Regions from separate parts of the Homo sapiens genome. Here all the other regions are linked to region 1. The links come from fine-mapping of genetic effects on gene expression. A gene starts in region 1. Each other region holds a variant in brackets. All regions are shown on one strand. Distances are between the middles of the regions. Region 1 holds the start of BICD1 (BICD cargo adaptor 1). Region 2 overlaps BICD1 (BICD cargo adaptor 1). Region 3 has its middle 33 kb from the start of RESF1. Region 4 overlaps BICD1 (BICD cargo adaptor 1).

Region 1 (8,108 bases):
GAAGAGCAAGTGTTACTTGTGAAATCACAAAACCAGACTCAAGTATTCTAGTGGACATACTGCTCTGTCCAGCTGCCCAAAGAATCATGAAAAGGAGAACACTTTGATGATGTCAGAAGTCATCCTTTTTTCAAATCCTTAGTACTATTCTTTCAAGTGTGTTCTTCTGTGAGCTGAATTACAGTAGTCCATGCAGAGCACTAAACAACATCAGGCCAGGTCAAAAAACAATTGAGTTGAGGGAAGAAATAACTAGGAAAAAAATTTAATGAATTTCATCTTCTTGATTTTGCACATCTTTAGGCAACACTGCCGACTTGCATTATTGTCACAGCAGTACCTAGCCTGGGAAGGAAGGTAGCAACATTGGTGGGTACTGACTCTGGAAAACAAAATGATCTGCAAAGACTGAGCCATGTTGCTATACTGCAAATTACTAATGTCCAATTTGGACTTAATACAGTAGTTTTCTGTTGACATTCCCATAAACTGGTTCAATTATTTTTAAATAAATCATATTTGTTCAAAAATCCTAGAAATAAGCAAAGATTTATTTTATGCTTGGCTTTATAGATATAATGCAACATCATTTACTATACATACCTGATGAGCAAAACTTTCTTTTGAAAAATCAAAACACTCACAAAATATTTTTCAAAACTGAGGTGTTGGAACACCTCAGTTTGCACAATTATTTTGGATTTACTTTTCATACAAGAAATGTTACTTGAAATCAATTTAACTCATTTAAGTTATATTTCCAACTAAAGTATATTCTATGTTTAAAGAATAAAAATAATAGGCCTCACTATCAAATAATCAACTATAATAATTTTATTACCTAAAATACATTTTTATATAACTGTATAAACCAGTTTTTTAGGAATCTCGAATTTCACTTATGCTAAATGCAACTGAAAATAAATATATGAACAAGAATCGTTTAGTAAAAATAATGCTGGTAAATTTTTATTAACCTCCTGCTATATAGAACAAAATATATATTAAAATATTTATAGAAAAAATTTTAGTTGGTATTTGCATTATTCTGTATTAAGAAACCACAGTTACATTATTCCTACAAAACGTTTTTTTCACATTTTTCTCATTACTGCTGGTGAAACTAATACAGGTAGTTTTATTAACATCTGTCACTTCCTATACATCCTAATTTTCTTAGTATTTATCTAACACTAATCAATATTGACTAGTGAACCCTTGATAAAAGTGTGCCTTCTTCTAGTACAAACTGATTCTTTCATAAAATATTTCATGCCCACTGTGTGCTAGCTTTTGTGTTAAAGACTTGGGATGCAAAGCTCATGGTGTAGCAAAGGCAAAACACAATTGCATTAAGGTTTGCTATGCAAGGTAAGTGCAATGACAGAAATATCCCTAGAAGGATTGTTTAAATCAAGCAGCAAAGTCAGTAAGAGGTACATTTCATTAAATTAAGTCCATCTCCTTTATCAAGAAGGTGATGGCTTACCACTTTCTGGTTTGCACTTCCCTATCTTGGCAAAGCAGTGTTGATAGGTATAGACAATATCAAAACATCTCTGAGAATGACAGTCATCATCCTGCTTCCTCACTTCACAAGGTTTAGCATCACTGCATTTAAACATGTCAGCCTAATCTAAGTTGGAAAATATAAACAAGTCCAGCTGTTGTTAAGACCAGACAGGTACATGGTAAGTAAAATAGGAACCAGAAATTTACAGCCTGACACACAAAAATTAGATTCCTAGTTGGGATTTTTAATCATAGGTAGTACATTTATTTTTTGGTAGACAGGCATCCAAATAAAAATAAGACATATCTAAAAGTATAAATGCTTACCATATTACACACTAAATTGGAAGGCAAGTTGATTCAGTATGTCATAAATCACATCTTTTAACTGTAACAGCATAAAATAAATAATAGATTTTTGATATTATATGCCAAACAATAATTAACATTTAAATGTCAATATGCACCTAAAAATAAGGACTTGACACACAGAAAAGGAGTGTATATTACATTTAAATTTGTAAGTGGTTATTTGCTACCCATAGTGCCTCAAGAATCAGATAAAAAAGACCGAGTTACTTAAACAATATGTATGTTCTTAAGAGTGACTGATAGGAAATCAAAGCACGTTCATTGTTTTCTCCCATACATCCGACAGGCTTTAAAAGAGGCCAAATACCAAAAAACTAAAGAGACATTATACATCACCCATTTTTGATATTCTGGTTTTATAAATATATCATTTCAACCAGAAGAGCCTCATTTGAAATGCAACACTACCCACGTATTTGATATACACCACTCTTTCAGACTATTTGTAGGTGAGTTCAATTTTTTCTAGTCAGGGTGACCTCATAAGACTTGGACATGGCCCAGCCTCGCTCCGAGGTGAAATCAAGGCAGTGGGATCACCCAGCAAAGTTGTTTTTCTTCTGCAGCCCAATGACAAGAATGACTAAAGCCAAGCAGAATGAAGATTGCCTAGCCTTTGTCAAATGGGATTGGTGAGGAGTTCCCTCTCTCACCAAGGAGTGGTTACATCCAGAGGAAAGCTGAGGTGCCACACAGTCTAAATCCTGAAATTGTGGGTCCTCAGGCACAAACCTCATCACTTTTGTGGACTACGAAATTGTCGCTGAAACCTGGGTTTGAGATAACAGCGGTTTTGAGAAGTTTGATTTATACATTCCAACCCACTTGAATGTCGTCTTAGAGTGCTGAGACTTGATGACTCTTACTAATCTCCCTCCCCCGCAGGCCAAACAGCCATTGCCTCCCAAATTCCAGCTTATATATTCATTTCTTAGGCAATTTTTCTCTTGGGGGAGGAAACAATGGACTCTTTCAATCTTCTCTTACCAACAAAGGGCCCTAGAAGAAAAAACAGTCCTTTCAATCACCTCCTTTATGACTTCTTGATCATGATGAGTGGGCCTTGCGGGTGGGGGGAGTGAGGGCCAGGAAAGGGAGAGGTGACAGGCAACTCACCTCTTTGAGCTGCTCCAGCTCCTGTTTGAGGCTGTCGTACTCAGCCTCCAGTTCATCATACTGCTGTTTGAGGGTCAGCTTCTCCTCCAGCACCACCAGCCCGTACTCGGCAGCCTGGATCTTCTCGTGGGTGGTCTCCGTGAGCTCCTTGGTTAGCCTCTCTATCTCAGTCTTATAATGGTCCACCGTCTGCAATACCTCTTCTGCGGCCATAGCCCCGGTGGATGGAGGCAGGAGGGGGTTACGGGGTGGGGGAGATGGATGCGAAGCTGGCGGGGAAAGGGAGAAGGAAATGGGAAGGGATGGGTGGAAACGGAAAAGAAAGTGCGGCCGGATGAATGAGCAGCGCGATGCCCCGCCGGCTCTGGTGGCAGCGGCAGCTACACCGCCCGAGAAACTGACGAGAAATGCAACATGGAGAACAGGGCAGAGGGTCAGGGGCGAGGCGGCAAAGGCCGCCGCATGTGTCCTCGGGGCCGGCCCCTGCGTGCGGTCAGCAGCCGTGCGGCATGGCCCGGGCTGCGGCGGCCGCGGGTAGCGAGGGGCTCCGGATTCTGCTTATTCAGAGACGCCCGTCCGCCATGTCTCCCGGGCCGCGTCACTGCAGTCTCGCCCTGGGTCTGGCGCGCTCCGGCTCGCGGCTCGCTCTCTCGCTCCACCTGCTCCCTCTGGCCCTGCAGCAGCCGGTGCGGAATGATGCAGTCTCGGGGCCGGCTCCCTCCCTTCCCGCGTGGCGGCGGCTCCGAGCAGGGGGCGGGGAGCGGATGGAGTCAGCGCGGGGGGCGGAGGGAAGGACCAGACGGAAACATCCCGAGGCGCCTCCCGCCGGGCGCGCGGGCCGCCGCCCGCTGCACCGTGAGGCGCGCCAGGAGGAGGCGCAGGCGACGGGTCTGGGACTGGGAAGCGGTGGGGCGCGCGCGGCGGGGGAGCCTCCGCCCTGTCCGGCTCGCGGGGGCGGGAGCTCCTCCCAGGGCTTTGTCCCGGTGGCAGTAGAAGACCCCGAGAGCGGCGTGGGCGCCCGGGCTCTTTTGCTACGTCGAGGGCCGAAGCTCAGGAAACTGCCTGGAACGCTTTCTCCCGAGAAAAGCAAACAAAACTATCGCGGTCGCGGTCCGCGCATCCTCCTCGTCCCCTGGGCGCGCAGAAGGCTTTTTGGGCCACCTGCCCCCAAAAGACCGCTGGGTTTCCCAAAGCTTTCAAGACGCACCCCAAGGCGCCCTCCTCCGTCGTCCCCCTCTCTCCCTGCCTCTCCCAAGTCTGGCCTGGGCCACCTAACACTCTCACCAGATAACCTTACTATCCTCACAGGACAGTCCGCTAAATATTGCTCGCCCTCACCCAGCGTATCACAAGAGCGCTATCCACTCAGAAAAAAAATATCTCCACAATACATGCACCCAGGAAACCTCTAGCTAGGTACTGTATATCTTGCCCCAATAGTTTCCATCAAAGCACCTTACTCTGTGTCTTCAATAAAGGAAAACTGCTTGAAATTCCCTATATAAGATACCAACGATGCCCTGTAATAAGCATTTTTTAAACAATAAGAGCTAAGAGTTCTTGAGACCCATACCAAGCATTCTTCTAAGTATGTAACATGCGTTCTCTCCAATCCTAACAATGCTTTGAGGTAAGAGCCATTATCCTCAGTTTACAGGGGGTGAAAGGCAAAGGGAGATGTGATTTGTCCAAAGTCAGGCAACTCTGGAATCTTAACTCGGGAGCACTAAACGGGATCATTATGTTGGCTTCAGGTTCACTCATTACTCATACAAACCCAGCAACTACATATTACATGCTTTTAAGATAATCACATTAATCCATATGAAGAGTGATGATGAACGGTTACAAAAGGAGGTGAAAGCAAAGTAAGAGTGGAGTAAATGAAAGAGTGGAGAAGGGTCGAGAATCAAGAGGAAGAACGCAACATGAGAGAAAAGAAGCAATTTCTGTGTAACGGGAGGCTGTGAGACCCACAGATCAGTGGGTCTTTCCAGTTCCCTCTCTTCTTCTGCATGGCACCTATTCCAGAGCTGTTTCTCAGTGACCAGGTGATGAACACACATGCGTTTTCTAAGTTAGAAAGCAGGACTCAACTCTCCCATCATTGTGTACCTGGTAAAAAAAAAAAAAAAAAAAAAAAAGATGATTGTTGACCGGGCACAGTGGCTCACGCCTATAATCCCAGCACTTTGGGAGGCAGAAGTGGATGGATCATTTGAGGTCCGGAGTTCAAGACTAGCCTGGCCCACATGGTGAAATCCCATCTCTACTAAAAATACAAAAATTAGCCAGGTATGGTGGTGCACGCCTGTGATCCCAGCTACTTGGGAGGCTGAGGCAGGAGAATTGCTTGAATCCAGGAGGTGGAGGGTACAGATGGCACCACTATACTCCAGCCTAGGCAACAGAGACTCCATCTCAAAAAAAAAAAAAAAAAAGGACACTTGTTGATGGCGTGGGAGAAAAAGCATATGACAGTGCCCTTCCAAAGTTTCCACTAGCAGGCTGTCTGGATGTGTTTTCCATTGCTTCACAAACCAGACAAGTTTCCTTCTAAACGCCAGCGATCACAACAGAATATTCTCATGTGATTGTCTGATCTAAAAATAAAACAAAAGAATATTCTCTTGTGATTGTCTGATCTAAAAATAAATAAATAAAAGGAGAAAACATTCCAAATGTGCAGCCACCATAAATTCCAGCCTTGTAGAGAAGCGGATGATAATGACTACAACATCCGACCCATCTTTCCTTATCTCGCACTCCAGGTGGGAAGCCCCTCCTGTGTGCTCCCGTGGCATCTGACCTCTGACACGTTGATGAATGATGATGAACTGCTGAAAAGAGATGGAACCTGCAATTGCAGGTAGCTAACCTGCCTTCCCAGGAAGCCTCTGGCTGTTCCTCACTCTACAAACTGTAAGCATAGGCCTTCCAAAGGGATCATAAGACTCGCACTAGATTGCCTGTGCCTCCCTCTCCTTTGGATCAAACTAAGAACAGAGTTTGCCTCTGTGACTTTCCTTTTTGCTAAATTTCCATTGTGGTCCAGCCCCTATGCTCTATCCTGCCCCGTTTTTCTGATTGATACACTTTTGTCACTTGTCACTTTTGTCTGATTTCAGGCATGTCTTGCACACTCTGACACTTTAAGATGTTGCTTAGTTGAACTTTGATCCTTAAATGTTGGTATTTAACGTAAAGAAGATAAACTTATTTTCTTGTTTTTTTTCTCTTTTTTTCTGAGACAGGGTCTCCATCACTTAGGCTGGAGTGGAGTGGCATGATCATGACTCCCTGCAGCCTCAACCTCCTGGACTCAAGCGATCCTCCCACCTCAGCCTCCTGAGTAGCTGGAACTACAGATGAATACCACCACACTCAGCTAATTTTTTAAATTTTTGTAGAGACAGGGTCTGTCTATGTTGCCCAGGCTGGTCTCAAACTCCTGGGATCAAGTGATCCTCCCACCCTGGCCTCCCAAAGTTCTGGGATTACAGATGTGAGCCACCATGCCCAGCCAAATTTATTTTCCTATACACCATGCTGTTCCAGTACTGCATAGTTACAGTTCCCTCTTTTTTCGTATATGCCATATGTATTGCATATATATCAATGACAGGTATATAGAAAATAATTTCTTAAAGCATTCCTAGGCTGGGTGTGGTGGCTCATACTGGTAATCCTAGCACTTTGGGAGGCTGAGGCAGAAGGGTCACTTGAGGCCAGCAGTTCAAGACCAGCCTGGGCAACATAGCGAGACCTCATGGCTACAAAAAATTAAAAAATACTAGCTGGGCATGGTAATACATGCCTGTGGTCCCCAATACTTAGGAGGCTGAGGCAGTATGATGGCTTGAACCCAAGAGATTAAGGCTGCAATGTACTGATTGTGCCACTGTGCTCTAGCCTGGTGACAAAGCAAGACTCACCAAAAGAAAAGAAAAAAAGGCCAGGCTCGGTGGCTTACACCTGTAGTCCCAGTACTTTGGGAGGCCGAGGTGGGCGGATCATCTGAGGTCAGGAGTTCGAGACCAGCCCGACCAACATGGTGAAACCCCATCTCTACTAAAAATACAAAAATTAGCTGGGTGTGGTGGTGGGCGCCTGTAATCCCAGCTACTCGGGAGGCTGAGGCAGGAGAATCACTTGAATTCGGGAGTTGGAGGTTGGAGTGAGCAGAGATCCGCCACTGCACTCTAGCCCAAGTGACAGAGTGAGACTCCGTCTCAAAAAAAAGAAAAGAAAAAAAGCAAAAAAAAAAAGCACAAGCTAGTCTACTTGGGTCATATCCAACTTTGCCACTTACTAGCTGTGTGTTTCTCAGTTGTGTCATATCTAAAAAGGAGATAATAATATAATCTAATTATGAGATTGTTGTGAATAGAATAGTATCACACACATAAGCATTTTATATGTGCTTTTTAAAAGTTTTAAAAGAAAAACAAGGATAAAATTTAGGTAGAAAGAAGAAAAAAAGATAATCAGTAGAGATCTCTCTGAAGAAGTGATATTCATTTTATTATCTATGAGGAACAAAAAGGAGTCGGATATACAAAATGTGGGGGAGAAGCTTTTCAGGGAAAGGAAATAATGTGTAAAAGCCAAAGGCAGAAAAGAGCTTGTTGAGTGCAAAGAATAAAAATCTGAGAGGCTGCTGGGTGCAGTGGCTCATGCCTGTAATCTCAGCACTCTGGGAGGCCAAGGTAGGAGGATTATGTGAGCTCAGGAGTTCGAGACCAGCCTGGGCAACATACCAAGACCCCATTTCTACTAAAAAAAAAAAAAATTTTAATCGAACGAGCATGGTGGTGCATACCTGTAGTCCCAGCTACTTGGGAGGCTGAGGTGGGACGATCCCATGAGCCTGGCAGTGAAGGCTACAGTGAGCCATGATCGTGCCACTGCACTCCAGCCTGGGTGACAGAGCAAGACCCTGTCTCAAAAACAAATAAAAAAAAAAAAAAATGAAAGAGGCTGAGGATTAAGAAGCTCAAGGGAAATGGCCTAAGACTATATCAAGAAGTCAGGCAACATCAGAGAGATAGGCGGGAATTATACTTGCCTTGCAAGTCAGAATGAAGAATTTGGGTTTTATTCTCAGG
Region 2 (8,108 bases), 26 kb before region 1:
TTTTTGCTTCTGGTTTGGAGCTCTAGACCACAGCCTTAGTTCTGGTCAGTTGTTAAGTAATTATTTAACAGTGTGACGTTCAGACCTGCATGACATCTATACAGTGTCCAGTAAAGAAAGAGAAAGCCATGGTCCCTACCTTCAAAAAAGAAAAAATGCCACGTAGGTGCTTGGTGATACAAAGTTGAGTAAGACACACATAATCTGGTGGAGGAAACAGACCTGAAAATCAATAATCACAGAACAGTGGAACATTATAGTTGCCTCAGTCTTTACAGGGGAACACAGAGGAGCACCAGCTAAAGAATGTGTACTTTGGACAAAGTTATATGCCAGGTACTCCTATATATATGATCTAATACAAAAATAAACATCAGTCCTATACTGTTAGATGAAGAAATAGGTTCCAAGATTTAAGAGGCAGAACTGAGAATGCAAGTCCTGCGCTATCATCCTCCACACGCCTCTCCTTTGTCCCTCTCCACCTTCCTTCCCCCTTTATTTTCCTTTCCTAGAAGGGAAGGAGGGTGTCAGCATCTCAATCAAAAGTCAAAACTCACATGTCAACAGGTAAGTGACAGATGATGTAAATGAGGGAAGAACAGAGATAGTGAGATAACTCAGATGAGATGGAATGGTGGGGACTCTGGTGAATTAGAGATTCACGCTCTTTCTAAAAGAAAGGTGAAGGTTCATGCCTGTAATTCCAGCACTTTGGGATGTAAAGGCAGAAGATCGCTTGAGGCAAGGAATTTGAGACCAGGCCAGCCAATATAGTGAAGTGTTGTCTCTACAATAAATTTAAAAATTAGCCAGGTGTGGTGATGCACACCTGTAGTCCCAGGTACTCAGGAGGCTGAGATGTAAGGATCACTTAAACCCAGCAGGTCTAGGCTGCAGTGAGCTGTGTTTGTCTCACTGCACTCCAGCCTAGGTGACAGCGCAAGAGACCCTGTCTCAAAAAAAAAAAAAAAAAAAAAAAAAAAAAAGCCACGCATGGTGGCTCATGCCTGTAATCCCGGCACTTTGGGAGGCCGAGGCAGGCGGATCACCTGAGGTCACAAGTTCAAGACCAGCCTGGCCAACATGGTGAAAGCCCATCTCTACTAAAAATATAAAATTAGCCAGGCATGGTGGCATGCACCTGTAATCCCAGCTACTCAGGAGGCTGAGGCAGGAGAATGGCTTGAACCTGGGAGATGGAGGTTGCAATGAACTGAGACCACACCACTGCACTCCAGCCTGGGTGACACAGTGAGACTCCGTCTCATAAAAAAAAAAAATAAAGGAGGGGAGCGGGGAAGGGGAGGGGAGGGGAATGGAGGGGAGGAGGGGGAGAGGAGAGGAGAGGAGGACTCATTCACCTCTAGCCCTCTGATGCCACACAGAAATGTGGGCCCAAGGCTCTGTGAAATCTTCCAGTTTTTTGAGACTGGCCTGAAATCCTGTTTATGTGATTCTGTTTCTTGAAAAAAGCAGCTCCCTAAATCAAAATGTTTATCAATCACCAAGCCTGACTGTGGCCACGGGATATCAGCTTGCAATATCTGCTGTAGACCAAAGGTGGCCAGGCTTGTCGGCATTGCTCCCGACACTATGGTGTTTCACTTAGAAAGTTTAACAACCACACAGTCATCGCAAAACAAACCACAGGACTGGTGCCACTACTGTTATCAAGACTTTATTCTAATTCTGAGGTATTAAGGAGAGAGGCACACAATGACAGAGTCGCGGTGCTGAAAACACCTGACTCACTTCCTTGACATCCCTACCAAGTAGCTTTTTGGCTCTGCTTAAGCATCATGATGAGCCAACAGGGAAGTCTCTCTCTCCTCAGATGGCCTGCTCACTTTCACTCTGCTCTTAGACATTAGAGAAGGTCTTTTTTTATATTAAGTTGACCTCTGTATCCCTGTATCTGCCACCCATTGGTCTCTGGACCACTTTACCTAGAACACAATATCCCAGGAGCAAGAAACCAACGTTATCATCACATTACAAACAGTGTTTCTGTTCATACAAAGATCATATCAGCTTTTTACTTGGACTAGCACACTTGCCTCCCTGGCCCTCGGGGACCATAGCATGATCTAGCAGTGCCAGTGAGTTAACAAAGGCTTACCAAGTTCCATGGTAGGGCACAGGGAGAGCTGTTATTTCCATCAGTCACATGTTTTACTTTAATTCTAGCTCAAGAATATATTTATGCCCCAGTCTCCATGTTCCTAATCTACAGTGCACAACTGCTTCCTATAAATAATTATTTTAACTTTGGTTTAAAAAGTACTGGCATCCAGCCAGGCACAGTGGCTCAGGCCTGTAATCCCAGCACTTTGGGAGGCCGAGGTGGGTGGATCACCAGGTCAGGAGATCAAGACCATCCTGGCCAACACAGTGAAACCCCGTCTCTACTAAAAATACAAAAAATTAGCCAGGCGTGGTGGCAGGCGCCTGTAGTCCCAGCTACTCAAGAGGCTGAGGCAGAAGAATGGCGTGAACCCGGGAGGCGGAGGTTGCAGTGATCAGAGATCGTACCACTGCACTCCAGCCTGGGGGACAGAGCAAGACTCCATCTCAAAAAAAAAAAAAAAGAACTGGCATCCATTTCAGAAACTGGATAAAGTTGGTTTCACAGAATGTTAAAAAGTATCCATGGCTAGTTTGTTTGACTTTATAGGAATAAAAATGACTTAACAGTTTAGCTTTATAACAGAAACTAAGAAATATGGCTCCACACTTAATATGCATCATGAAAGGTAGCCAACTTAGGTCCAGTAAATTACATCATAGAGCATTATAACTATAGAATGCTGCTTGTTTTTCTGGCAAAGTCATGAATCCCTTCCAAATGAGAAACATTTTGGCAGACTCATCTTTTTTTTTTTTCCCAGATGGAGTCTTGTTCTGTCGCCCAGGCTGGCTTGCAGTGGCACGATCTTGGCTCACTGCAACCTCTACCTCCCAGGTTCAAGTGATTCTTGTGCCTCAACCTCCCGAGTAGCTAGGATTACAGGTGTGCACCACCATACCCGGCTAATTTTTGCATTTTTAGTAGAGATGGGGTTTCACCATGTTGGTCAGGCTGGTCTCAAACTCCTGACCTCAGGTGATCCACCTGACTCAGCCTCCCAAAGTGCTGGGATTACAGGCATGAGCCACCCCGCCTGGCCAGGAGACTCATCTTAAAATTATTTTTCAGACAAAGTATCAATATTGGTATCCACAAGAATTTTCAAATTCAAATAAGCAAATATTTCGTCTCCTAAATTTAAGTGTGAAATATTATTTTATTCCTTTTTATATCTCCTTATCATATGATTTCTTTACATTCTTCCTAGCTCCTTATAAGAAACCTAGGAGCCATCCTGATTTCTCCACCTTCTTTTGCCTCCCATATTTAATTAATTAGCAAATCTTTCAACATATACCCTGAATCAGATCACTTCTTACCCTCAAGTAGATTCTCTCTCAGTCTAAGCCACCATCATCTCTTACCTGAACTACTGCAATAGCCTCCTAACTTGGCTCACTCTTCCACTGTCTGCAAGGAATAACCAGAGTGATCTTTTAAAAACATGTATGAAATCACATCACTCAGGCGGCTTAAAATAAAATCCAGACTTCTCACCAGGGCTCAGAGAACCTGCTTGCTGACTCCCTCTCCACTGCCCCTCTCACATTCCCCCTCCCCAACAACTGCCACACTGGAGTCTTTTGGGGTCCTGGTTGAAGGCAGTACTGCCCCCTTGGCGTTGGGGCGGGCAGTGGGTGTCTAGAATGTGTGACTGTTTTTGTAATGACAGTGACTAGGGATGCTAACCGTCCCGCATTGAGCCACACAGTCCCACAGTGCACAGCACAGTTCCGAGCCGCAAAGGCTTGCAGTACCCAAAATGCCATTTGCCATTTTCACAAAAACCCAGTTCATTCTCATCTCAAGATCTTTTTTTTTTTTTTTTTGAGACAGAGTCTCGCTCTGTCGCCTAGGCTGCAGTGCAGTGGCACAATCTCGGTTCACTGCAACCTCCGCCTCCCGGGTTCAAGCAATTCTCCTGCCTCAGCCTCCTGAGTAGCTGGGATTACAAGCGCCTGCCACCACACCCAGCTAATTTTTGTATTTTTAGTAGAGACAGGTTTTCACCATATTGGTCAAGCTGGTCTCGAACTCCTGACCTCATGATCTGCCCACCTTGGCCTCCCAAACAGCTGGGATTACAGGTGTGAGCCACAGTGCCCAGCCCCCATCTCAAGATCTTTACACTTACTGTTACTTTTGACCCAGGAACTGAAATATTTTCCCATCTTGCTCAAATATTTTCCCACCTTGCTCCTTCTGACCACTTGGGATTCAGCTCCAACATCATCTCCTCTGAAAGGCCATGCCTGGCCCTCATTTCTCAAATAGCCACCCCAGCCAGCACCCCCGCCAGTCTTGTTATTCCTCCACCTTGCTTTATTTAGTTTTTAGCACATATCACCCTGTAAAATTATGCATTTACTTGCTTAAGCTTTTGTTGCCTTTCTCCCCCACAAGTGTGTCAACCCGCTGAGGGCAGGAACTTTGTACCCTGGCACCTAACAATGGCTGGGGTATACCAAGCGTTTAGTCATCAGATATGCAGTGGATAAATGTCTCCATAATTTTTCTTATTTACGATCAGGAATTTT[T/C]TTAAATCTTCAATTTGGGAGTGCAGTGTCTCGTAGTTATCATTTCTAGTTATTTTTTCCTACACCAAGTTCCCCTTTTTGTGCAACAGAGTTGTTTTACATTCCACAATTTTTATTTTTGCAGAGGACAGAGAGGTGATGGTAAACTTAAAATATCCCAAATCACCATGCAACTGTTTCACAAAATGTGAAGGAGGGCTTTTTATGAACACAGTATTTTTGTAAGCCTCAGAGTAAATGTGTAAATTCTGGCTAACTGACCAGTAAAGCTATGGTAGGACCACTTCTGGGGGCAATAATCATCCGATGAGAGAGCAGCTCCCTTTACTGGAGCCACCGAAATAGAAAATGAGCACCACCTTTTGTCAAAAAGGCTCACAAATCTTTTCAAGACCGAGAAGAGCTGAAATATACGGCAACAGAAAAATAATTTTTTTAAAAAAATCACACTTTGAAAGCACTAAATCCAAAGTTCAAACCAGGTCTAGAAGTGAATTAGAGATAAGTGATAAGGGGGATGTATAGGCTTACAACTGGACTTTAAAATATGATTTTATTTAAATGTCACGGAGCAGCCTGGCGTGGTGACTCACACCTGTAATCCCAGCACTTTGGGAGGCTGAGGCGGGCAGATCACCTGAGGTCAGGAGTTCGAGACCAGCCTGGCCAACATGACGAAACCCCGTCTCTACTAAAAATACAAAAATTAGCCGGGAATGGTGGTGCATGCCTATAGTCCCAGCTTGAGAGGCTAAGGCAGGAGAATTGCTTGAACCCGAAAGGCAGAGGTTGCAGTGAGCTGAGATCACACCACTGAACTCCAACCTGGGCGACAGAAATAGACTCCATCTAAATAAATAAATACATAAATGTCAAGGAGCATTATTTATTTAACTATATAGAAGCCTGGAAAGATATGTTAAAAAAAGAATGAGCATACTTCGATTACTTTTATGTTCCACACACATATGATCTATGCTCAAACAGGGTCTAAATGAGATACTAGATGTTAAACAGTGCTTCTCTCTAACGAGTGGTATTTGGGAACTGACATACAATCACCTATGGCTTCTGTGAGACTGCTGGGCCCAAGCACTGTATGCATTTTAGATCTTAATACAGACTGCCAATCCACGTTCTCAAAGTTCACAGCAATTCACACTTCTACCTCTACACACTTTCCGACACTGTATATTATCATTATTTAAAAATTTTGGGGCCGGGCGTGGTGGCTCACGCCTGTAATCCCAGCACTTTGGGAGGCTGAGGCAGGCAGATCACGAGGTCAGGAGATCGAGACCACGGTGAAACCCCGTCTCTACTAAAAACACAAAAAGTTAGCCGAGCGCGGTGGCAGGCGCCTGTAGTCCCAGCTACTTGGGAGGCTGAGGCAGGAGAAGGGCATGAACCCGAGAGGCGGAGCTTGCAGTGAGCCGAGATTGCCCAGTGCACTCCAGCCTGGGCGACAGAGCGAGACTCCATCTCAAAAAAAAAAAAAATTTTGTCACTGTATATTATCATATTTAAAATTTTTGTAAATTAATGGGAAAAAAAGTAAACTTCCTTAATTTACATTCACTGACTACTCAGATTGAACATCTCTTCCCATTTACTGATTTACTTGCAAATCCTCTCTGACTAGTTGCTCTTTGTCCTTTTTTCCTATTGCATTATGTTGTTTTCAATAAACTCATTGTACCTATATTTTAGGAATAATAATTGTTTGTAAGTCATCCACATCGCACTATTTCTTCCAAACTGTTCTTTTTCATTTCTAAAACCAAATAAGTCAGTCCTCCCTTTTGATTCTAAGTTTTGTATCTTGCTTAGGGAAATTTCCTCCCAGTGACATTTAATAAATATTCTCAGGAATTTTCTACTGAGTAGAATTCATTTTTTTAACAAACCATTAAGTCCTTGGTATTGCAATGTAAAGTTAATGAAGGGAGGGGATAAAAGAAGATGAGAAAGAAAAGGGTACAGGGTTAAGAAAGAGACTGGAAAAGTCTTATTTCTTAATGTTGAAGAAAGAGTTTTAGGCCAGGTGCGGTGGCTCATGTCTATAATCCCAGGACTGTGGGAGGCTGAGGTGGGAAGATCGGTTGAGCCCAGAGTTTGAGACCAGCCTGGGAAACATAGTGACACCTTGTGTTTACAGAATTTTTTTTTTTTTTTTTTTTTTTGAGATGGAATCTCGCTCTGTCGCCCAGGCTGGAGTATAGTTGCGCCATCTCAGCTCACTGCAACCTCCACCTCCTGGGTTCAAGCAATTGTCCTGCCTCAGCCTCCCAAGTAGCTGGGACTATAGGCATGTGCCACCATACCTGGCTAATTTTTTTTATTTTTAGTAGAGACAGGATTTCACTATGTTGGCCAGGCTGGTCTCCAACTCCTGACCTCAGGTGATCCGTCTGCCTGGACTCCCAAAGTGCTGGGATTACAGGCATAAGCCACCATGCCCGGCCTACAAAAAATTTTTAAAAAATTAGTTGGGCCTCTAACCCCAGCACTTTGGGGAGCTGAGGCAGGCGGATCACCTGAGGTCAGGAGTTCGAGACCAGCCTGGACAACATGGTGAAACCCCATCTCTATAAAAATACAAAAATTAGCCAGGCACAATGGTGCATAATCCCAGCTACTCGGGAGGCTGAGGCAGGAGAATCTCTTGAATCTGGGAGGCAGAGGTTGCAGTGAGCCAAGATCGTGCCACTGCACTCCAGCCTGGGCAACAGAGCGAGATTCTGTCTCAAAAAAAAAGAAAAAAAAAATTAGTTGGACATGGTGGTGCATGCCTGTAGTCCCGGCTACTTGTATGGCTGATGTGGGAGGGTTGCTTGAACCTGGGAGGCTGAGGCTACAGTAAGCCAAGATCGTGCCCTTGCATTCTAGCCTGCGCAACAAAACAATACCCTATCTTAAAAAACAAAAAAAGGAATAAAAAGAAGTTTTAAAAGATTCTAAAGTAACAATACATTTCTCATATTGATATATTATGACAGGAAAAAAACTCAAGTATTTTGGCTTGAAAATATAAACTATAAACATATAGGAAAAATTTTGGTTTAAAACTAAGCACAAATTACGCTGGTTTTTTTTTAAGAAAAGGAACAATTATATTTTTCATAATACTAAAAATGAAATAATGTAAAGTGATAAAAAGCAATTAATTCCTACTTAGGTAATATTTCATCTCAGCCTTTTCCATTAAAACTTTAACTTTTATGTGATTATGAGGTTATTTATACCTAAAGAGACCATTTATGTATATAGAGAATTAGTACAGGCATTTATTCTTCCAGGGACTGAGATAAGAGGAAAATAACCAAGGGAAGAATTTGTTCAGCACTAGAGGCAATATTTCAGATGCTTAAGTGGAAATACGCATATGCTTCCTCAAAAATCACAAATAGAACTGTTAGATTAGAACTTGTACCTTTTTG
Region 3 (8,108 bases), 180 kb after region 1:
AAGCAGGAAGGAAGTTTGTTTGGGGAAAGTTAAACTATAAATTGAGTTCCTCCCTGAGTTAGTTCTACGTACACCCAGGAGTCAAATTGGATAGCTTGAAGCAAGATGGAGTTGGTTAGCTCAGATCTCCTTTACTGTCATAATTTTCTCAGTTATAATTTTGCAATGGCAGTTTCTATCTTGTCTCTCCAAAGAGCATAATCTTTACCTGGTGCCTTCAGAATGAGGAATTTTTACCCCATAGGTGTTTTGACTTTATTCATCTTTGTTTGAAGGGGATCTGAATATGCGACCCCAAAATATGACACATTGTCATAGGAAAATTTTGAGCTGAAGGTAATTGAGAATCAGGAGATGCAGGTGGCTGGGAGCGGTGGCTCATGTTTGTAATCCGAGCACTTTGGGAGGCCAAGGCAGGAGGATCACTTGAGCCCAGAAACTCGAGACCAACCTGGGCAACATAGTGAGACCTCATATCTGTGGCAGGCCAGTTCTCCCTGACAGTCACACAGACAGGGCTCCATAGCACTCCATTTACATAGATGAATTTCCACAGCGCTTGCCTTAATATTGGGCTAACAATTAAGTCTAGGGAAAATCAATGCTCGGACGTCAGAACCAGAAATGAAATATATGTTCAGTAAGTGCCTTGCACAGGCTTCTCCTAAAACCTGGAGCACGTCAAGATAATGGAGACAGCCTTACATTCCTTGTACCAGGATCTGTCTCGGGTTGACATCTGGGGCGAGTCAAGGTAACATAGACAGTCCTTGAAACGATTTATTTTAAGGAGGAGGGTCTGGAGCAACTCTTAGGACCAAACCGTAGGTAAGATAAAGTAGAAGTAATTGCTCTGGTGCCAGGATCCTCCTTAAGTAAATTTAGGAGACATTTCTTAATCACCCTGGTACGAGGACCCTCACGGATTAGGTAGATTTAGAGGGCATTTTTGGCCTCTGACCTTCTAGTTGAAGCAAAATTAATTACTGATAAACTTAGGCAAATGTGATACTGCACGTAGGCATGTAGTCCAAACATGTATGAGCATGGGAAGAATTGTAATACCTTGAGTTGGTCTGGCGAATAATCTCTGATCTTCTCCCTGTATCCAGTTACAGAAATAAACTCCCTTCTTTCCCAGTCCATCTGCATCTCATTATTGGGCTGTGAGAACATACAGCCAGGCCTGGTTCGGTTCGGGAACATCTCCACCAAAATTTTTTTTTTTAATTAGCTGAGTGTGGTGGTGCTAGCCTGTGGTCCCAGCTACACAAGAGGCTAAGGCGGGAGGATAGCTTGAACCCTGGAGGTCGAAGCTGCTGTGAGCCATGATCATGTCACTGCACTCCAGCCTGGGTGACAGAGCCTAAAAGCAGGGCATAAATTTCCCATTGAGGAAGGTGCTTCCCCACCCACCCAGTACCAGGGAGAGAAGAGTGATTTTTACCAAAGATGGGAATTAACACCAAGATGAATTTGCATAAACAGATCTTTCTAAAATAGCCCTTATCTTCCATTAATTCCCCCATGTTTCCTACTCAGTGCCCCACAATTAGTTCCTTGAAGCTCAAACCCTCTTTCCTTTGTTAAAAAGGTACATAAAACCGCAAGTCTAACTACTTCTTTCCTGAGAACTCTTTTGCATGCAAATATTAATAAAAATGGTGTGCCTTTTCTCCTGTTACTATGTCTTTTATTAGTTTAATTTGCAGGCCCTCAGTTACAAAACATAAGAGGGTTGAGGAAAATTTTTCCTCTCTGACATGTTTCAGTTAAAAAGGAACCAGCCTGACCAACATGGTGAAACCCCGTCTCTACTAAAAATACAGAAATTAGCCCGGTGTGGTGGTGCATGCCTGTAATCCCAGCTACTCAGGAGGCTGAGGCAGGAGAATCGCCTGAACCCAGGAGGAGGAGAATCGCCTGAACCCAGGAGGCAGAGGTTGCAGTGAGCTGAGATCCTGCCACCGCACTCCAGCCTGGGCAACAAGAGCGAAACTCCGTCTCAAAACAAAACAAAACAAAACCAGCTGAAGAAGTTCCTTTGATTAACAGCACAGCACGGAAATGTTAGCTCTCCTTAGCCAAACCTTGAAAGATACTCTTATTTAATCACAGTTTTAAATGTTAGCTTGCTTACCTTAAAAAAAAAAAAAAGCCAGAAGTCAGATATTCATGATGTGAGATAAAATTCTTAAGTGTGGAGGGAACAAAAACTACAACCTTTTGTAAAAGTCACAAAAGGCCAATCTATTGTATCACATATCCTCAAAGAAGAGTCAGGGCATGCTGAAACATGCTGTGTTTTGTTTTTACTAACATTTTCCTTATTACAAAAATGTTACATTCTCATTAGATAAGAATACTTAAAAAAATAAAATATTATCAATATAATTAATGCACTGGTGTTTTTCCTCCTATAACTTTTCTGTGCATAGTTTTCCCTTTCTTTAATTACATGTTATAATGTAATCCTTATAAACATAATTTTAATGATTGAATATGTTTCCAAGGAAAAGAAATATAGTTTACTAAACCATTTCTCTAGTCGTGGACAAAGAGTTGATGGAGACATTTATTGTGTGTGTGCTTTTACATTGACATTTTAAAAACAAGAACTTCTGAAAAATACAAAAGTACAAAAAGTTGCAAAAATTCAATTTCCTACTTTCCTCCCCAGAAATAACCACTGTTTAATTTTATTTTGTGCATATCTTTCCAGACCTTTGTCTTTGAACATACATTCATATTGAAAGGCAAAATCCTTACACAAATTTGCTAAATTAGTTATAAGATTGCTTAACTTTCTCAGGGCAATAAAGACCTGGAACATTTGGAATTAATGTCTCTATCAGGTGGCAAAAGCATCCTAACAATGTATCAATGTTTACAGATTAATTTCTAATCTTATAGAGCAGTAGTGCAGTAGTTTTTCTGTACCTTCGTCAGATGTTGGTTCTTGTCGGCTCTTCATATTTGTGGGTTTTACATTTGAGGATTCAACCAACTGCAGATCAAAATATTTTTAAAAAAGTAGTTGGGGGCGGTGGCTCACGCCTGTGATCCCAGAACTTTGGGAGAACAAGATGGGGGAGGATCATTTGAGCCCAGGAGATTGAGACCAGCCTGAGTACATGGGGAGACTCCATGTCTACAGAAAATAAAAAAATTAGCCAGGCACTGTGGTGTGTGCCTGTGGGACACAGCTACTTGGGAGGTTGTGGTGGGAGGGTCGCTTGAGCCTGAGCAGTTAAGGCTGCAGTGAGCCGGGATCATGCCACTGCAAAACTGCACTCCAGCCTGGGTGACAGAGCAAGACCCTGTCTCAAAAAAACAAAAAACAGGCTAGGCGAGGTGGCTCATGCCTGTGATCCCAGCACTTCGGGAGGCTGAGGCGGGCAGATCACCTGAGGTCGGGAGTTCGAGACCAGCCTGACCAACATGGGGAAACCCTGTCTCTACTGAAAATACAAAAAATTGGCGGGGTGCAGTGGCTCACGCCTGTAATCCCAGCATTTTGGGAGGCCGAGGTGGGTGGATCACGAGGTCAGGAGTTCGAGACCAGACTGGCCAATATGGTGAAACCCTGTCTCTACTAAAAATACAAAAATTAGTCGGGCGTGGTGGCACTCGCCTGTAGTCCCAGCTACTCGGGAGGCTGAGGCAGAAGAATCACTTGAACCTGGGAGGCAGAGGTTGCAGTGAG[C/T]CGAGATTGTGCTACTGCACTCCTGCCTGGGCAACAAGAGCAAAACTGTCTCAAAAAAACCAAAAACAAAACAAAAAAAGAGGCCTAGCACAGTGGTGTGGAGTTCCAGCTACTCAGAAGGCTGAGGTGGGAGGATTGCTTGAGCCCAGGAGTTTGAGGCTGCAGTGAGCTATGATTGTGCCACTGCACTCCAGCCTGGGCAACAGACTGAGACCCCGTCTTTTTTTTTTTTTTTTTTTTCAGATGGAGTCTCGCACTGTGGCCCAGGCTGGAGTGCAGTGGTGCGATCTCGGCTCACTGCAAGCTCCGCCTCCCGGGTTCACGCCGTTCTCCTGCCTCAGCCTCCCGGTAGCTGAGACTACAGGCGCCTGCTACCACGCCCGGCTAATTTTTTGTATTTTTAGTAGAGACGGGGTTTCACCGTGTTAGTCAGGATGGTCTTAATCTCCTGACCCCGTGATCTGCCCACCTCGGCCTCCCAAAGTGCTGGGATTACAGGCATGATCCACCGTGCCTGGCCGAAACAGTTTATTAACATGTGCCGCCTGTATACACGCCTGACCCTGTCTCTTAAAAAAAAAAAAGATTGCTTCTGTACTGAACATGTACAGACTATTTTTTCTTGTCACTAGTCCCTAAACAATACAGAATTACAACTATTTACATAGCATTTACATTGTATTATGTATTATAAGTAATCTAGAGATGATTTAAAGTGTGTAGGAGGATGTGAGTAGGTCATATGCAAATACTATGTAATTTTACATAAGAGACTTAAGCATCCGTGGATTTTGGTAACTGAGGGTGGATCCTAGAACCAATCCCACATGGATACTTATCATTTCTTACGAGTGTGACATTCGGGCAAGTGGACTTGGAAAATGATCTGGCATGGTATCAAAAATCAAGCAATTGGCTGGGCGCGGTGGCTCACGCCTGTAATCCCAGCACTTTGGGAGGCCGAGGCAGGTGGATCTCGAGGTCAGGAGATCGAGATCATCCTGGCTAACACCATGAAACCCTGTCTCTACTAAAAATACAAAAAATTAGCTGGGCGTGGTGGCAGGCACCTGTAGTCCCAGCTACTCGGGAAGCTGAGGCAGGAGAATGGCATGAACCCGGGAGGCGGAGTTTGCAGTGAGCTGAGATCGCGCCACTGTACTCTAGCCTGGGCGACAGAGTGAGACTCTATCTCAAAAAAAAAAAAAAAAAAAAAAATCAAGCAATTATCATTTACCTCTTTACAGAATTGGTATACATTTTCTTTAAATATACATAGAGTATACATATTTAAGGTATATATTTATACACACATACCTTCTCACTTGGAAGTTATGAAAGTATTTTCTAAAATTTTTTTTCTGTTAGCTTTATATCTTTATTTGGCTTAAAATTTTTAAATCCCCCCTGCCCTGCCACCAAAAGTATTTATTATTTGATATGATGTAAGGATTTTTATTTTTCTTGAAAACAAACAAAACAGCACCTGTTGAATAGTTCATCTTTCCCCACAATTTGAAAGGAAACTTTAGGTTGCTATATAGTATACATATGCACTTGAGTCTATTTCTGGACCTTATTCTTTTTCAGTGGCCAATTTGTCCCTGCTTAAATATGACAATGTTATTTTTTCTTCTTTTTTTGAGACAGAGTCTCACTATGTTGCCCAGGCTGGTCTCACAATCCTGGGCTCAAGCCAGTCTCCTCCCCCAACCTCCCAAAGTGCTGGTATTGTAGGCATGTGCCACCACGCCTGGCCAACAATGTTTTGATAGCTTTATATTTTGATATCTGGGACAGCATGTCTCCCATATTTATCCCTGTACTCAAAATATGTGATGTATGTTAATCAACTCTTCATGTTTTTATTAATAATTTATATTATTTTTAACTGGTAGAATCTAGGCATGGTCAAAAGAATAAAAGGAAAAATTAATCACACTCCCAATTCTGCATCTCAGCCATCCAGTTTGCTTCTCCAAAGGCAACTAATATTCTAGCTTCTTGGGTATCACTATATGGATATTCTATAGATCATATTTGAGTTGTTTCTATCTTTTGGCTTTTGCAAAGGTGAAATGGACATTCTTAAAAAAAATATATATATATATATATATATATATATATATATTTTTTTTTTTTAAGACGGAGTCTCGCTCTGTCGCCAGGCTGGAGTGCAGTGGTGTGATCTTGGCTCATTGCAACTTCTGCCTCCCAGGTTCAAGCGATTCTCCTGCCTTAGCCTCCCGAGTAGCTGGGACTACAGGTGCATGCCACCATACCCAGCTAATTTTTGTATTTTGCAGAGGTTGCAGTGAGCTGAGATCATGCCATTGTACTCCAGCCCAGGCAACAAGAGCAAAACTCTGTCTCAAAAAAAAAAAAAAAAAACTTAGCCAGGCATGATAGTGGGCAACTGTAATCCCAGCTACTAAAAACACAAAAAATTAGCCGGGCGTGGTGGCGGGTGCTTGTAGTCCCAGCTACTCAGGAGGCTGAGGCAGGAGAATGGCGTGAACCCGGAAGGTGGAGCTTGCAGTGAGCTGAGGTCACGCCACTGCACTCCAGCCTGGGCGACAGAGTGAGACTCCGTCTCAAAAAAATAAAATAAATAAATAAATAAATAAAATAAACTCAGTCATTCTGGTGGATAACACAGATAACTTTGTGGCTTTCCTCTTCACTATGGGGGATAACAGCTTTAACTGTTTGCTATTTGTAATTCCTATTTTATGTAATGCCTGCTTAAGACTTTAGCATGCTTGGGAAGAGGATGTACATCTTTTCCTGGTTTTCATTATGGATTTACAACTTTGCAAAATGTTTACATCTTTGAGCCACCTAGAATTAACTGTAATGGAAGGTAAGCTGTAGGAGTTCAACTCTCGTTTTCCAGCTGGCTACTCAGTTGTCACAATACTATTTATTGAACAATTCATCCTAGATAAATATAGAATCAATTTTTGTGCATGTCCATTTTTTATCTATTGGCAACTAATAAGAAGTAAAACCAACACTGCAGACAAGCATATGAGAGAAGGTATTTTAATTGAGATCTTTTATAAATTGCAATTTGAGAGACACAAATCGAGCAAGCAGCTAAATCATATTCCATACAGACAAGCTGGGCAGGGGCTTATAAAGGTTCCTGGCAAGTTTATACAAGTGGAAAATTTTAGCACAGTCTATGATTGACAATGGCTGATTGACAGCTTAGATGTCTCTTGGTGATGAACGACCTAATTTGGCACAGCTGTCTTCTCAGGAGATTTGTGATCAGGCCCAGTGTAAACAGTTCACATCAAATTCAGCTGCTTCTTTAGGATGTTTGTGATTTGGTCCAATTTGAACATGTCAAATTTCATCTGAGTATATGGGTGATGGGGGTCCAACTCCTTATGCCCTCCTGGCTCCTTTTTAGAGACCTCTGGCATAATCATCTCCATTTTGGATTTCTTTTCAGATTTTCCCCTTTTGATTTAAATATTTCCTTAGAAACCACTGAGATCAATTATTTCAGTAAGCCCTTTGGTTCTGGAATAGATTTGTCCCAGGAAGTCATGTCCCATGGAGGAGGGAGTCATGGTAATGATAGTGGATGATCTGTGTCAAATGGAATAGTCCAAATTTGAGCAACAAGGAGGAGTTGAGGATGTGGGCCCCAATTGTGGTGCACATATGTGGTTAGGGTAGGATTCATGATTGTAGGCCTAATCTGTCAGTTCAATGTGTTGAGCCACCATAATTTTAGTTTCGTTGACAGCAACAGTGTGGCATCAAGCTGAGAGAGGAGAAAAGAAAGAACCAGCTAGGAAGGCGGTTAGGGCAGGTGCTCAGTAGAATTCTTTCAAACAAAGGAACAACCTGAAAACTCAGGCTACAGATACAGATAAGGGAACTAGCACAGGCAGCTTGCCTAGGATATACCCATAGCTGCACAGATAAGGAAGCAAGGCCCAACATAGAAGCACCTTTGTTCTTTGTGTAAGCAGCAGCCTTCCAGGAAATAGTTTCTTTTCCTTTTGTGGGCATGTAGATGGTGGGCTGTGGTGAGTACATTCCTTTCCTTTTTTGGGCATACTTTGGACTGTGAGCCAAACCTCTATGAATCATCACTCCAACACTAGGCTGGTTGTGAGCCAAGGCTCCAGTTGGTCCTTTACACCATCATGCCATTTTCTAAGTGGTGCCTTTTCTAAAGACAACCACCAGTCAGCCAGCACACTAGGGGTACAGGGTGGAGCTACCAGAAATTCACAACTTATGCAATTTCAGTTATGCAAATGAAATGCCCAGACCCATCTGGTTCCTCTGGGTTCCTCATAACAGCCTTTGTACTCAATTGTGAAATGGCAACCCTCTCAGGTCCCCTCTCTGCAGTGGAGAGCTTTCCTCTTTCACT
Region 4 (8,108 bases), 270 kb before region 1:
ACGTTGCATAATAAATGACACTGTGGAAAATAGCACTCATATAAAGAACACAAAACGTCCTGGTTGCTTTGGTAATAGCGACCACTACTTAATAGGCGTATGACTAACGAAAGCTCCTGCAATGTGCTTTACGACTTACCATTTGGTCTCTGATGGACCACTCCATTTCTGTGCCACCCATGTCCGCTCAATAAGCTGAGTGGCTCCTGGATCTCCTTTCTCAGTGCCCTACACTGGTAACTGTCCTTTGTGTTAACAGTGAGGGTCATTTTTGTTTTGAAGAGAAGTTACAGATGTCTTTATATGAAAAGGTCAAACCCTTATGGTTTTAAATAAGTTAAGGCTACCTGACAAAGACAAGGAATCAGGGCTAGGAGCAATTGTGTGGGCAGCACTTGATGGTTAAGGAGCCCGAGAGTGTTAGACCTTTCAGCTCAGTTAGCTGTTTTCCTTGTTTGTCAGATTATGTGCAAAATAAATTTTGCTATGAAAATCCACTGCCTTAAATCAAGTCATAAAAGTTACCCAGCAGAATCTGTAAATTAACCAGGAACATGTATTATCTCAAGATAATAGAATGTTTGTAGGCACCTGAGTGTTTGTCAAAAGTAGACAATGAGCTAAGGTTTATTATCTATTGTTTTTTTGGCAAGGAAGATTCGTTATGAAAAAAACTAACAACAACAAAACATACAATTTTAATCAAACTTTGAACACTCTCTGGGTAAATTAATTAATTAAAGGCTATCTTACATCTATATATGTATATATTTTCCCATTTGTACTTGATACCTTTTATCAGGAAAGACTCAGTAGGACCCTGATTTTGGGAGAAGTAAAAAAAATTCTGGTCATTAAATAAACACACCATTTTTTTCCCTTCAAGTTATTGAGCCTTCTTTAACGTTATCACACACATACACACATACAAAGGAGCAGCACCAGTACATCTACTCAACTGCAATGAAAAAATAAAAGTAAAGATGCCATCAAAACTTGAATAAGTCAATAAATCATAACTTAGTCTCTTTCTTAGATTTACTTAGTAATGTCCAGTGAAGAACTCTAGTTAAAAATACAAAAACAAAACCCAGCAGTTAATGAGCTACTGATTAGAAAGTAAGTGCCTAAACAATACCAGCGTAGCAGCAAAATACAGTTATTGTTAACATTCTGATGCACCTCATTTATCATTTTGTGCAAGAAAAATGACCACAGTCTGGCCAATTCCAGATTTCAAACTAAATTCAAACTCATACTTAATTGAGCAAATTATGCTTATTTGAAAATAAATGAATTAAATTCACCTCAGAGAAATTATTTGTATAGACATAAATCATGTAGCAAATAAAGTACAAAATAAATATCAATGACAAACATATTGGAATCAACTTCCCTAGCTGAATTTGGAGTGTGAGGAAAGATGATACTGCAATATACGTATTTTACATGTCTTAGGTCTCTCTTATGCTATCGAGGTAAAGCCAGCCATCTGAGACACGTTTTCTGTTTCTTTTTTCTTTTTTTTAAATTTAAATGAACTGTAGCCATTTGATGGCAGAAGTTTATCTGTGACTCAGAGAAACCACAAAATGTTTTATCACATCAGGGTCTGTGCTTCGTGTTCTTCTCAACTTTCTCTCGTCTTCCAAAACGATGGACATTAATCCAATTGTACATCTAACAACCGAGAAGAAAACACCCGCTGGATCTTGGGCAGTATCCTGTGTGTGGCTACAAAACTTCCACCCCAGATGTTCGTCCACAGGAGATGAAGACTAGGGGTGAGGAGGCTTGGAGAGACAGTGGAGAGGGGCGCACTGGGAGCTGGAATGTGGCTGCTCCTCAGGGAGAGCTGTGTCAGGACTGGAAAGGAGAAACAAGCACGTCAGCAAGAAACACATTTCAAAGGGCCAGGCACAATGGTAGGGGTTAGACGAGATATTTTTGCATAGATTTTGAGAACAAGAACAGAAATCTGCACAGTAAATGGTTTCCATCTAAAGCATGCCAAGATAATGGTAGCTTTTCAAAACAAGGCATAAAAAAGAAAAATGAAATGTATTAAGGAAATGATATATGCACTCTTCCCTCAAAGTCACTCTTCTCTTTTCTTGTTTTCCCTATTTTCTTGCCCCCAGCATTTTACAGAAGTTCTTCTCAATTTTTGCACGGTCTTGTTCTCCTAGGTCTCTGTGTTAGCTGTAAGATTTCATGAGATCAGTTCTTTTCAAACTTTAATATGCATGCAAATTACCTGGGGAGCTCAGTATAAAGGGCAGATTCGGATTCATTAGGTGTGGGGTGAGATCTGAGATTCTACATTTTTAATGAGCTCCCAGTGATGCTGATGGTACTGACAGGTTGACCAAGGCTTTGGAGTTTAGAGGATTCTATAGTTATCTGGTAGATCCAGATTCACTAGGATAAAGAATTTGCCTGTGGAAGTCTAATTTGCTCTAAGAATTCCCCCTACCTGCTTGGGCTTGGAGGTATAAGGAAGAGTTTTATATTTCACCCCCCCCCCCCTTTTTTTTTTAGATGGAGTCTCGTTGTTTTGCCCAGGCTGGTGTGCAGTGGCTCCATCTCAGCTCACTGCAGCCTCCGCCTCCCGAGTTCAAGCGATTCTCCTGCCTCAGCCTCCCGAGCAGCTGGGATTACATGCATGCACTACCATGCCCTGCCAATTTTTGTATTTTCAGTAGTGATGGGGTTTTGCTATGTTGGCCAGGCTGGTCTCGAACTCCTGACCTCTGGTGATCCACCTGCCTCGGCCTCCCCAAGTGTTGGGATTACAGGCGTGAGCCACCGAGCCCAGCCTAACATTTCCCATTTGTTAAGTGTATAATGTAACTTTCCAAACGACGCCTGTGATAGCCTCTAGTTTAAATGAACCTGTGCTCAGGCCTATCAGGGTCTGGATGAATAATCTTGAAGAATAAAGAAGCAAAATCATTGAGTTTCCTAGGGTAAAATGACAAAACACATTTGGGTTTGGGCCTTTTAAAATTTGACTAGCGGCCGGGCGCGGTGGCTCACACCTGTAATCCCAGCACTTTGGGAGGCCAAGGCAGGAGGATTATGAGGTCAAGAGATTGAGACCATCCTGGCCAACATGGTGAAACCCTGTCTCTACTAAAAATACAAAAAAAAAATTAGCTGGGTATGGTGGCGTGTGCCTGTAGTCCCAGCTATTCGGGAGGCTGAGGCAGGAGAATCACTTGAACATGGGAGGCAGAGGTTGCAGCGAGCCAAGATGGCGCCACTGTACTCCAGTTTGGCAACAGGGCGAGACTCCGTCTCAAAAAAAAAAAAAAAATGTGACTAGCAATGGGGGAATCACAACATGGAGATTTGTTTTTTTAATTAGAAAAGAGTATTTTTCTAAAACTCTGTTATATTCCCTTAAACTATGAAAGTCAGTACTATATAATTCATTTCTACCAGAAGTGATGTTTGAGAGAACAATTCAAGGCTCATTATTACTATTAATTTAAGCATAGCTTTTTAAAGCTAATTAAAATTAGCTTTAAATTTAATGGAGTTTAAAATGTAATGGAGTCATTAAAATTAGTATTAAATAATTTTTATCTTTGGTACTGAAATTATCCTCTACCTATATCTCTTGCATTTTAATACAAAATCATAATTATGGAAAATATCTGACTGGCTTGAGGTTATTCTTTCTTCCCAAACTCTTTGAAGTGCTGTAAATATAGTTTAAAAGAAGCTTTGCTGTTCTGTACTGGTTAAGACAAGCAGTGATAAAAATTGTTTTTCCTACCTATTTTTAAAATGTGGTATGTAAACATGGGAGAACTGGACCTTCAACAAAAAGCCTAAGAAAATAG[C/T]GCATAGTTTCATTTGTAAATTTTTTTGATATGGAATCTCACTGTCGCCCAGGCAGGAGTGCAGTGGCACGATCTCGGCTCACTGCAACCTCTGCCTCCTGGGTTCAAGCAATTCTCCTGCTTCAGCCTCCCGAGTAGCTGGGATTACAAGGGCCCACCACCGCGTCCGGCTAATTTTTTGTATTTTTAGTAGAGACGGACTTTCACCATTTTGGCCAGGCTGGTCTCGAACTCCTGACTTCAAGTGATCTGCCCACCTCGGCCTCTCAAAGTGCTGAGATTACACACACGAGCCACCGTGCCCGGCCTCATTTATAAATTGGAAAATAAGCCTGGGCGCGGTGGCGCACGCCTGTAATCCCAGCACTTCAGGAGGCCAAGGCGGGCGGATCATGAGCTCAGGAGATAGAGACCATCCTGGCCAACATGGTGAAACCCCGTCTCTACTAAAAATAATTAAAAAAAAAAATTAGCTGGGCGTGGTGGCGGGCGCCTGTAGTCCCAGCTACTCCGGAGGCTGAGGTAGGAGAATGGCGTGAACCCGGGAGGCGGAGCTTGCAGTGAGCCGAGATCGCGCCATTGCACTCCAGCCTGGACGACAGAGCGAGACTCCGTCTCAAAAAAAAAAAAAAAAAAAAAAAAAAGGAAAATAAATGAAGAAAATCTTAGGCCAAGCATAGTGGCTCACGCCTGCAATCCCAGCACTTTGGGAGGCCGAGGCAGGCGGATCACCTGTGGTTGGGAGTTCAAGACCATCCTGACCAACATGGAGAAACCCTGTCTCTACTAAAAATACAAAAAAAAAAAAAAAAAAAAAAAATTAGCCGGGCGTGGTGGCACATGCCTGTAATCCCAGCTACTCAGGAGGCTGAGGCAGGAGAATCGCTTGAACCCGGGAGGCAGACGTTGCGGTGAGCTGAGATCACGCCATTGCACTCCAGCCTGGGTAACAAGAGCAAAACTCCGTCTCAAAAAAAAAAAAAAAAGAAGAAAGAAAAGAAAATATTTAAAACAGAAAATAATGTATGGCAAGATTCACACTTGACCCTCCAAACAGAGTTTGACGGCCTGGTAAACAGCAGGTTATAGGCCAGACTTTCCCATCGACCTAACAGTTTTTCTGCAAATATGCATGACTTAGACTGCTGACTTCCACAGCACATATAGTAAAAAAAACTCCAATTTTACTATACGTGCTGTGGAAGTCAGCACCAGAACTAATTTCTTTTTAGGGAACTAAACATATTATGCAATGTGATTTATGGCAAGTAATGCAGAATCGTCACATTACACAAGAAAGATATGGCTTTTTTTTCTTTTCTTTTCTTTTCTTTTTTTTTTTGAGCAGAATCTCACTTTGTCGCCCAGGCTGGAGTGCAGTGGCACGATCCCAGCTCACTGCAACCTCTGCCTCCCAGGTTCAAGCAATTCTAGTGCCTCAGCCTCCTGAGTAGCTGGGATTACAGGCCTGCGCCACCACACCTGGCTAATTTTTGTATTTTTAGTAGAGACAGAGTTTCACCATGTTGCCCAGGCTGGTCTCGAACTCCTGACCTCAAGTGATCAGCCTGCCTCTGCTTCCCAAAGCGCAAGGATTACAGGCATGAGCCACTGTGTCCACCCAAGAAAGATATGTTTTTGAAGACCTTGTGTAATCCAATACTTTTTTTTTTTTTTGAGACAGTCTCAAACTGTCGCCCAGCCTGGAGTGCACTGGCGCGATCTTGGCTCACTGCCACCTCCACCTTCCGGGTTCAAGTGATTCTCCTGTCTCAGCCTCCCGAGTAGCTGGGACTACAGGCACATGCCACAACACCTGGCTAATTTTTTGTATTTTTTTTTTTTTAGTAGAGACGGGGTTTCACTGTGTTAGCCATGACAGTCTCGAACTCCTGACCTTGTGATCCACCCGCCTCAGCCTCCCAAAGTGTTGGGATTACAGGCGTGAGCCGCTGCACCTGGCCCCAATACTCTTTTTGATAAAGGAAGACAAATATTTCTTCCTGACCAGCTGAAGTGTGTAGCTATAGCTTAAATATGGGTTACAACTCACTTTGCCTAACACCTTGACATTACATCATTCGTGATGATTTAAATTTTTTTCATTCCTTTAGATAGATTTCTTACATAAAGTTATTATCTATAGTATTAATATTTTTAATTTGCATAAAATGCTGCAATCACATGGTGTATATTATGTGTAAATTAACCTGTAAGACACACATTCTTGGCTTACAGGTTAAGATACTATTTCTTGGATATAAATATTTGATAAATTATAATCATTTAAGGCATAGAATGAATTCAGTTTCAGTTGTGATTGCTAAATATTTTCAAGAGTCCACTTGTTATTCAACATTTACCATTGATTTTACTTTACATAGGTAGATCATGTTGTAAATGGCAAGTTTAGGAAGCTGTTACTAAGATATAAAATTGGATACATCTTCAGGAAGTTTCTTTTTTTTTCCCAAGTAGAAAACTACTTGATAGAAGGGAAGTGCTAAATACCAAACAACTCTATATATTTCAATATTATATCCAAGGCTATATACCTTGGGCATTCCTTTCATATTATAATACCTATTATCTATAAACAATTTTGATAATTTAGCTCTACAATGGAATTAGCCTGTAAAAAGTATACATGGAAAAGTTCTACTTTTTTTCTGTTTTTGGAGACAGGGTCCTCTTCTGCCACCCAGGCCGGAGCGCAGTGGCACAATCTCGGCTCACTGCTGCCTTGAACTCCTAGGCTGAAACGATCCTCCCACCGCAGCCTCCTGAGTAGCTGGGACTACAGATGCAGGCCACCATGCCTAATTCTTGTATTTTGTTTTAAAGGACAGGGTTTCACCAAGTTGCCTAGGCTGATCTAGAAATCCTGGGCTCAAGCAATCTTCCCACCTCAGCCTTCCAAAGTGCTGGGACTACAGAGGTGAGTCACCATGTCCGGCTGAAAAGTTCTACATTGTTAAAGGTGAGAAAATGCTCTTTTATTAAAAAATCATTCACCTTAAAAGCTGTTTGAATATATGTATAAACCGAGGGAAGTACAAAATAATTTTTTTTTTAAGATGGAGTCTCACTCTGTTGCCCAAGCTGGAGTTGTCCAAGCGTGATCTTGGTTCACTGCAACCTCCGCCTCCCTGTTCCAAGTGATTCTCCTGCCTCAGCCTCCTGAGGAGCTGGGATTACAGGTGCCTGCCACCATGCCTGGCTAATTTCTGTATTTTTAGTAGAGATGCCGTTTCACCATATTGGCCAGGCTGGTCTCGAACTCCTGACCTCAGGTGATCTGCCCACCTTGGCCTCCCAAAGTGCTGGGATTACAGGCATGAGCCACTGGGCCCAGCACTCAAAATCATTTTTCAAAATGAGAAACAGAACACCTGATGTGAAATAACTCAACATTCTTAGCACATCTTCTGTTTCTCATTAAACAAACATTCCTCTTCAGTTTGAGGGAAAAGGAATCATGGTGGGTGATTTACATACTCTGACTTTGCTCCTCACAGTGTAACTGAAATAGATTTCTCCTCTGCAGTGCAGCCACCTGTGGTGGTAGGTAGGAGTCACTAGGCTCAGTTGTGTTCAGGATATGTGACCTTGAACAAGTCATTTTACCTTCCCAAACCTCAATTTCGTCACATAAAAATGGGTGTAAGACCAGGTGTGGTGGCTCATGCTTGTAACCCCAGTACTTTAGGAGGCTGAGGCAGGCAGATCACTGGAGGTCAGGAGTTCAAGGGCAGCCTGGCCAACATGGTGAAACCCTGTCTCTACTAAAAATACAAAAATTAGCTGGGTGTGGTGGCACACACCTGTAATCCCAGCTACTCGGGTGGCTGAGGCAGAAGAATTGCTTGAACCCAGGAGGTGGAGGTGCCAGTGAGCCAAGATCACGCCACTGCACTCCAGCCTGGGCAACAGAGGGAGACTCTGTCTCAAACAAAAACAAAAACAAACAAAAAAACGCCAAAAAACTAAACCAAACAAACAAAAACAACAACAAAAATGGGTGTAATAACTGTGCTTATCCCTTATGGAAGGCTGTAATGTTTAATATGTGTAAAGAAATGAACCCTTGTCTGGTTTATACTAAGAATTCGAATGTTGGCTATGTGTTAACTTTTCTGCCAAGAAGGAGTAAAAAGGGCAATGAAGGTATTAACATTGACCCATTTGGCAGTGTGTATGGGTGGGAAAAGAGTCAGTCATCATCCCAGCAATTTTGGAAAAGAGTCTTTTCAGATC

Evidence for each region. PIP is the estimated chance that this variant, and not a neighbour inherited with it, causes the effect. A credible set is the group of variants that fine-mapping cannot tell apart.
Region 2: its variant is the best candidate, but not a certain one, in a credible set for the expression of BICD1 in caudate (GTEx, PIP 0.88).
Region 3: its variant is the best candidate, but not a certain one, in a credible set for the expression of BICD1 in whole blood (TOPMed, PIP 0.57).
Region 4: its variant is the best candidate, but not a certain one, in a credible set for the expression of BICD1 in whole blood (INTERVAL, PIP 0.64).

The regions. Positions count from the first base shown.
Region 1 is chr12:32,102,437-32,110,544 of GRCh38, reverse strand. BICD1 (BICD cargo adaptor 1) reads right to left here and starts at 3,698. Exons shown (of 10, transcript NM_001714.4): 1 at 3,001-3,698. The coding sequence starts at 3,213. It overlaps BICD1-AS1 (BICD1 antisense RNA 1), which reads left to right and starts at 3,083. Exons shown (of 3, transcript NR_185992.1): 1 at 3,083-3,151; 2 at 5,772-5,869; 3 at 6,255-6,428. RefSeq lists enhancers at 2,091-2,728, 3,256-3,335 and a silencer at 3,696-4,175.
Region 2 is chr12:32,128,268-32,136,375 of GRCh38, reverse strand. All of the region lies in intron 1 of BICD1 (BICD cargo adaptor 1), which reads right to left. Among named protein-coding and RNA genes, the nearest start is that of BICD1-AS1, 25 kb to the right of the region's middle. RefSeq lists enhancers at 1,857-1,916, 1,927-2,086, 3,868-4,369. The variant T/C (reference allele first, on the strand shown) is at 4,669.
Region 3 is chr12:31,922,595-31,930,702 of GRCh38, reverse strand. No RefSeq gene overlaps it. Among named protein-coding and RNA genes, the nearest start is that of RESF1, 33 kb to the left of the region's middle. The variant C/T (reference allele first, on the strand shown) is at 3,707.
Region 4 is chr12:32,371,298-32,379,405 of GRCh38, reverse strand. BICD1 (BICD cargo adaptor 1) reads right to left here. Exons shown (of 10, transcript NM_001714.4): 10 at 1-1,866. The coding sequence ends at 1,779. Among named protein-coding and RNA genes, the nearest start is that of FGD4, 24 kb to the left of the region's middle. The variant C/T (reference allele first, on the strand shown) is at 3,852.